Linked DNA regions of Homo sapiens. The protein of the gene in region 2 purifies or fractionates together with the protein of the main gene of each other region. This does not show direct contact. Each region holds a gene or a part of one and is shown on either strand. Other genes may lie near its edges.

Region 1 (3,500 bases), on a different chromosome or scaffold from region 2:
TGCTCCAGCAGCGGCTTGGATGCTCCCAGGGACTGGGCGCTCCCTCCCCTTGGCAGGGAACTCCAAGGTTTTGAGGCTCACAGAGACGGTGGGAGGCAGGCGCCGGGTGGGAAGGGCGTGGCTCTGGCAACATAAAGATCTAAGCCTGAACCCCGACTGGCCATCGATTGGCTGGCTGGGGGGACTTGGGCGTGTCCCTGAACTTGCCTGGGCCTCCCTTTCCTCATCTGTAAAATGGGTATAAGGGTCCCTACTCCCAGGGCTTTGGGGAGAGGGCAGCACTCAGCACTCCTGGTCCCGAGTGCCCACTGGGTAAACGGTGGTCGTCATTGCTGTCATCTCCCCCCAACCACAATACTCCCCTACTGCCTTGGGGAGTGGCAGCTTATCACCTGGTTCCAGACCTGGCAGCTGAGCTCCCAGCCTTTGGCGCGGCTCCCGGCCTGTCTGTGCCTCCCTCCCCAGCGTCCCCCACCCCCAGGCACACCTACATTTACAACCTGTACAGAGCTGCCCTCACACACCACCACACGCGTGCGCACAGGAGTGCCCGGCTCACCCACTCCTGACACACGCCATGACCCCGTCACTCACGCTCGGAGCGTGCCCACGTGAATCGGGACTTGCCCACGTGCCCCGCAGCACCCGCCCTGCCTGCAACACCCACACCAGGCACCCGGGCCCGCTCACGCTCACCTGCACACCTCCATGGCGGCTCCCTGGCACCTCCACCAAGCAGGGGCCCCTCACCGCGGCCCAGGGCTTCAGTGTGCAGACTCCAGGCTGAGAGGGGACGGGGATCAGACCCCAATGGCACCACTCTCCAGCCGTGGGACCATGAGCCAGCTCTCATCCACTCTGAGCCTCCATTTCCTCATCTGTAAAAAGGGGACCCCCACAGGGCTCCTGGGTGGAATTGGTGAGGAACACACGTGAACACCAAGGACAGGCCTGGGTCACACGGAACATGCCTAATACCAGATTCTCACCGCAGTGACAGCCCCTGACCGTCCCGTGCTGCAGCTCGCAGATCCTCCACCACCACCAGGAGCAAAAGGAGGGCCGAGATGAGCCGCCAAGTTCAACGTCTGTTATTCCTAACCCCGCACACGGCTCTGTGTAGTAGAAGTCCCTTATCCCCAACCCCCAGATAAGAAAACTAAGGTATCGAGAGGCTAAGAACCATGCCTGAGGCTGAGAAGATCCAAGGGCCTGGGTCTTGAACACCACAGCCCAAGCACACTCCGTCCCTGGGGCCCTGACGTACCTTCCCCACTGGGTCTCACTATCTGGGAATTTGAACATGGTACAGAAAGGGAAACTGAGTCCCAGAGGGAACTAGTGACTCCAAAGCCACTGTCCAGGCCATGATGGTCCTGGGACTTAATCCCAGGCAGGCTGCTGTCCATCCTCTGAGCCCCTGGGCGCACAGGAGCCTAAAAGCCAGCCTGCCACAACCCTTCTCCCTCCCCAACTCACCAAGCCAGGAGCCAGACACAGAACAATCCGGCCACCAACCCAGCCGGGCCACCACAGAGGCCCTCCATGTTTGCCACTCGCTCCCAATTCAGCCAAGAGCCTGTGACAGCTCACTCTGTGATTGCCCAGGGGAGTGGCCAAGAACGGCTGTCCCTGATACAGCCGGTCCAGCAGCCTCCTTCCTGGGAGAGCATTTACTGAGCACCTACTACGTGCAGATCCCTGTGCAAACATCCCTGTCTCATGCGCAAGGGACCTCAGAGCTCAGAGACGTAAGGAGCTGGCCAGGATTGCCCAGCCAGGAAACAGCAGAACTGACCTTCAAGTCCTCAGCACCTGCCGTTCTGCCCTTGGTCAGAATATGACCCCAATCTCAAGTTACCTAGAAACGCCGCAACGTAATCTCTGACACTCTCTGCCCTGCAAAATAGATCACACACAGAATGTGAAAATTGATTCATCTTGTTATGACCATAATGATGATGTGCTTTTTAATTTATATTGGCTTTTTTTCTTACCAGAGTGCTAGAGATATCTGGGGCAAGATGAACCCCAGCAGAAGACCTCAGTGAAGAAGTCAAGACATCCCTAGGCCAGGCGTGGTGGCTCACGCCTGTAATCCCAGCACTTTGGGAGGCCAAGGTGGGTGCACCACTTGAGGCTAGGAGTTTGAGACCAACCTGGCCAAAATGGCAAGACCCCATCTCCACTAAAAATACAAAAATTAGCCAGGTGTGGTGGTGCACATTCTAATACGAGCTACTCAGGAGGCTGAGGCAGGAGAACAGCTTGAACCCGGGAGGTGGCGATTATAGTGAGCCGAGATCGCGCCACTGCACTCTAGCCTGGGTGACGGAAGTGAGATTCCATCTCGATAGATAGATAGATAGATAGATAGATAGATAGATAGATAGATAGATAGATAGATAAAAAGAAGGCAAGACATCCCTATCTGAACCCCAACAGCCAACTCACCTTGGCACAGTGGGAGGTGCCCTGACAGGAACAAAGCAGTTCCTGCCACATATTTGCTGTGTGACCTTGGGGAAGATGCTTCACCTTTCTGGCGCTTAATTTGCCTACTTGTAAAATGAGGGCATTGAACTACTTGGCCCCAAGAGTCTCCTCCAGCTGAAAGATACTAGGATTCTATTTCATAGTATTCAAAGAAATAAATGTTGACACAGTGAGCCACCTCTTTTCCTCCCCATAAAATTGGCAAGAAGTAAGGAAAACAGTAATACCCAGTGCTGGCAAGAATGCAGAGAAATAGGCACTCTCTCATCTACTTTTGCTGAAAATGTAAACTGGAACAGCCTTTCTGGAGAGCAATTCAACAATTTTTAATCAAAAGCCTTTCAAAACATCCCCAGCCTTTTAACTCCATAACCCCGTTCTGGGTTCTTATCTTCAAGAAAAGATAAGTGCAAAGATTTAGTGCAAAGACATTCATGCAAAGATGTGGTACAAAGATGTTCATCTCAGTATTTTCAATATGGGAGGAGGAAGCTAACTGTCCAATGACAGGAGATTAAATAAAATATGTTCTGTCCATATGATGCACCATGAAAAAAAATCATGCTCTAAAAGCATAGTTCATGATACGGGCAAACATTCAGAATGGTCAGGTTTTTTTAAGTCAGAAAATAAAAAGTAGATAATCCCAAATTTACAAGGTAATGAAAACTATGAGTCCAGGGACAGCGGCTCATGCCTGTAATCCCAGCACTTTGGGAGGCCAAGGTGAGTGAATCACCTGAGGTCAGGAGTTCGAGACCAGCCTGACCAATATGGTGAAACCCCGTCTCTACTAAAAATACAAAAATTAGCTGGGAGTGGTGGCGGATGCCTGTAATCCCCTACTCGGGAGGCTGAGACAGGAGATTTGCTTGAACCCGGGAGGTGGAGATTGCAGTAAGCCAAGATCGTGCCACCGTACTCCAGCCTGGGTGACAGAGTAAGACTCTGTTTCAAAAAAAAAAAGAGGAGGGAAGGGGAGGGAAGGGGAGGGAAGGGGAGGG
Region 2 (4,236 bases):
ATGATATTAGCACAATGGTGAAATCACCTAGTGACCCATTTCTCAAGCTCCTCACGTGGCAAGCAATGCATGACTGCATATGAAAGCTCTTAAATAGGGATTGTTTCTAAATTAATCTCAAAACAGTCATTATTTACTATTTATGGAATTTTTTTTAAAAAAAGGAGCAAAAGTATCATTTCAGTGGGAACTTAACTTGGGGCTACAGTGTTTTATTTAACTTTTACCCCAAAGTTGCAAAGTGTTTTGAAATTTTTCCCTGTAAAATAATTATTTTAATTCAATTTAAATAAAACCCACCAAGGAGACTTCAAGCTTTAAGAAGTCTAGCTTCCTGTGAAATGTGAGAGGAAGTCAGCACTCATTTCAGAAATCTGATTATAACAATAGCTCCATCCCTAAATGAGGTGAATCTTGGAATCTCTTCCATTTTATTTTATTTTATTTTTTTGAGATGGAGTTTCTCTCTTGTTGCCCAGGCTGAAGTGCAATGTTGTGATCTCGGCTCACTGCAACCTCTGCCTCCCAGGTTCAAGCGATTCTCCTGCTTTGGCCTCCTGAGTAGCTGGGATTGCAGGTATGCACCATCACACCTGGCTAATTTTGTATTTTTAGTAGAGACGGAGTTTCACCATGTTGGTTAGGCTGGTCTCGAACTTCTGACCTCAGTGATCCCCCCACCTCGGCCTCCCAAAGTTCTGGGATTATGGGTGTGAGCCACCACACCCGGCCCCCCTTCAATTTTAAAGCCATCACTATGCACCCTATGTCTATGCCAGGCACTAAAATAAGATGAAGCACCTTCTTGGAGTTTACATGCTGGTAATTATGCCAGACAGTAATAAAATAGGTAAGAACGGCTGTGGGGGAAGTCAGCTGGGTTCTAGTTACAGTCGCATTTCAGGAAATGATTTAACATGCTGACTTTAACAACCTAAGCCTCTTCTCCATGTGTGCACACAGGGTAGATCTCTGAACACAGGTGACCCTAGAAGTGCTGTAACTTCTAGGGGAATGGCTGTGTTGAGTCAAGGCAGGATGACAGTTCAGCCTCCTCCCAGGCTAGTGCAAAGGGCTCTTCACTCGGATTAAAACCTTCTCTCCCAGACCGAATTGCCAACTCCCAACACCCCTCCTACAGAAAATGTGGAGTCCTCGCTTATTCCCTGGCAGCCCCTACCTAATAGGGTGGTGAATTAATTATCAAACATGCGACAGTTTAGCGAAAATGGCAACACTTTGGAATAAGTGACTGTAATGTGCATCCTGGCGCCCATTTTGCAGGTCAGTTGCTCTCCCTGGAAGGAAGAGTGTTCTCGGATTTCACCTTAAAGGAGGAAGGCTGCCAGAACTGAACTAGCACTTCTGAATATCCTGAGGCGAGGTCCGGTGACTTCCTTGGGAAGCTCTGCCGCGCCCCCACCCCACCCTACCCCACCCTACCCCACCACAGCAGGCGCTGGAGTCCTGGGACCACCAGGGTCTGAGGCCCAAATCCTTCCTCACTAAGGGGAGGAGAGGGGTGTTCCGGCAGGGCAGGATGGGAAGGCGTGCTTGGGCGGGATTGTGACATAAGAGTGCCCTGGTGACATGGAGCAGATCTGTGACATAAATAAAGGTGTCATAAAGACAGGGCGGGGCTCACGCTTAGAAGGGGCACGAGCGTCTCGGAGCTGCCAGAATGTCTTCTGCTCAGTGCCCGGCACTAGTGTGTGTCATGTCCCGGCTGCGTTTCTGGGGCCCATGGCCCCTCCTTATGTGGCAACTATTGTGGCTACTAGTTAAGGAGGCTCAGCCTCTGGAGTGGGTCAAGGACCCGCTCCAGCTCACCTCTAATCCCCTGGGGCCGCCTGACTCCTGGTCTTCCCACTCCTCCCATTTCCCACGGGAATCTCCCCATGCGCCTACTCTCCCAGCAGACCCGTGGGACTTTGATCACCTGGGGCCCTCTGCTTCCTCAGAGATGCCAGCCCCACCCCAGGAATCGACTGAAAATTTGGTTCCATTCCTGGACACCTGGGATTCAGCTGGAGAGCAGCCCCTGGAGCCAGAGCAGTTCTTGGCTTCACAGCAGGATTTAAAGGACAAGCTGAGTCCACAGGAAAGACTCCCTGTTTCGCCCAAGAAGCTGAAGAAAGATCCAGCTCAGCGTTGGAGCCTTGCTGAGATTATTGGAATTACACGCCAATTATCCACACCTCAGAGTCAGAAACAGACTTTGCAGAATGAATATTCCAGTACAGATACACCGTATCCCGGTAGCCTGCCTCCAGAACTCCGGGTGAAGTCAGATGAGCCTCCAGGGCCCTCTGAGCAAGTTGGACCTTCTCAATTCCATCTAGAGCCCGAAACTCAAAATCCAGAGACCCTTGAAGACATCCAGTCCTCTTCACTCCAGCAAGAAGCCCCAGCACAGCTTCCACAGCTCCTTGAGGAAGAACCTTCTTCAATGCAGCAGGAGGCCCCAGCTCTGCCTCCAGAGTCCTCTATGGAGAGTCTAACTCTACCGAATCATGAGGTGTCAGTTCAACCTCCAGGTGAGGATCAAGCTTATTATCACTTGCCCAACATTACAGTTAAACCTGCAGATGTGGAGGTTACCATAACTTCAGAGCCTACCAATGAGACAGAATCTTCCCAAGCCCAGCAGGAGACCCCAATTCAGTTTCCAGAGGAGGTGGAACCTTCTGCAACCCAACAGGAGGCCCCAATTGAGCCTCCAGTTCCTCCTATGGAGCATGAACTTTCCATCAGTGAGCAGCAGCAGCCAGTTCAGCCTTCTGAGTCTCCTAGGGAGGTCGAATCTTCTCCGACCCAGCAGGAGACCCCAGGTCAGCCTCCAGAACATCATGAAGTCACAGTTTCACCTCCAGGTCACCATCAAACTCATCATTTAGCTTCACCCAGTGTCTCTGTGAAGCCTCCAGACGTGCAGCTCACCATAGCAGCAGAGCCTAGTGCAGAGGTGGGAACTTCTCTAGTCCACCAGGAGGCTACAACTCGGCTCTCAGGGTCAGGTAATGATGTAGAACCTCCCGCCATCCAGCACGGGGGCCCACCTCTGCTTCCAGAGTCATCAGAAGAAGCTGGACCTTTAGCAGTTCAACAGGAGACTTCATTTCAATCTCCGGAACCTATTAATAATGAGAACCCCTCTCCAACCCAGCAGGAGGCTGCAGCTGAGCATCCACAGACCGCTGAGGAGGGTGAGTCTTCCCTAACCCATCAGGAGGCCCCAGCTCAGACTCCAGAGTTCCCTAATGTAGTTGTAGCTCAACCTCCAGAGCATTCACACCTGACTCAAGCCACAGTTCAACCTTTGGATCTGGGGTTTACCATCACTCCAGAATCCAAGACAGAGGTTGAACTTTCTCCAACCATGAAGGAGACCCCAACTCAGCCTCCTAAGAAAGTTGTACCCCAACTTCGAGTATATCAAGGGGTAACAAATCCAACACCAGGTCAGGATCAAGCTCAGCATCCAGTGTCACCCAGCGTTACAGTTCAACTTTTGGACCTGGGACTTACCATCACTCCAGAACCTACTACGGAGGTTGGACATTCTACACCCCCGAAGAGGACTATAGTTTCTCCAAAGCATCCTGAGGTGACACTTCCACATCCAGACCAGGTTCAGACTCAGCATTCACACCTGACTCGAGCCACAGTTCAACCTTTGGACCTGGGGTTTACCATCACTCCAAAATCCATGACAGAGGTTGAACCTTCTACAGCCCTGATGACTACAGCTCCTCCTCCAGGACACCCTGAGGTGACACTTCCACCTTCAGACAAGGGTCAGGCTCAGCATTCACACCTGACTCAAGCCACCGTTCAACCTCTGGACCTGGAGCTTACCATAACTACAAAACCTACTACAGAGGTTAAACCATCTCCAACCACGGAGGAGACCTCAACTCAGCCTCCAGACCTGGGACTTGCCATCATTCCAGAACCCACTACAGAGACTAGACATTCTACAGCCCTGGAGAAGACTACAGCTCCTCGTCCAGACCGGGTTCAGACTCTGCATCGAAGCCTGACTGAAGTCACAGGTCCACCTACTGAACTAGAACCTGCTCAGGATTCACTGGTGCAGTCTGAAAGTTACACCCAAAATAAGGCTTTAACTGCACCAGAGGAACACAAGGCCTCCACAAGCACCAACATATGTGAGCTCTGTACCTGCGGAGATGAGATGTTGTCATGTATTGATCTCAACCCAGAGCAGAGGCT

The links.
Region 1: the proteins of LRRC37A2 (region 2) and NCS1 purify together in Homo sapiens (affinity purification with mass spectrometry; one large-scale study listed by BioGRID and IntAct). This does not show direct contact.

The regions. Positions count from the first base shown.
Region 1 is NC_000009.12:130,178,904-130,182,403, reverse strand, and holds part of NCS1 (neuronal calcium sensor 1), read right to left. Parts: intron 1-3,500. UniProt on the Homo sapiens protein: Neuronal calcium sensor, regulator of G protein-coupled receptor phosphorylation in a calcium dependent manner. Directly regulates GRK1 (RHOK), but not GRK2 to GRK5. Can substitute for calmodulin. Stimulates PI4KB kinase activity.
Region 2 is NC_000017.11:46,511,032-46,515,267, forward strand, and holds the start of LRRC37A2 (leucine-rich repeat-containing protein 37A2 isoform 1 precursor), read left to right. Parts: upstream 1-1,436; 5' UTR 1,437-1,681; coding exon 1,682-4,236.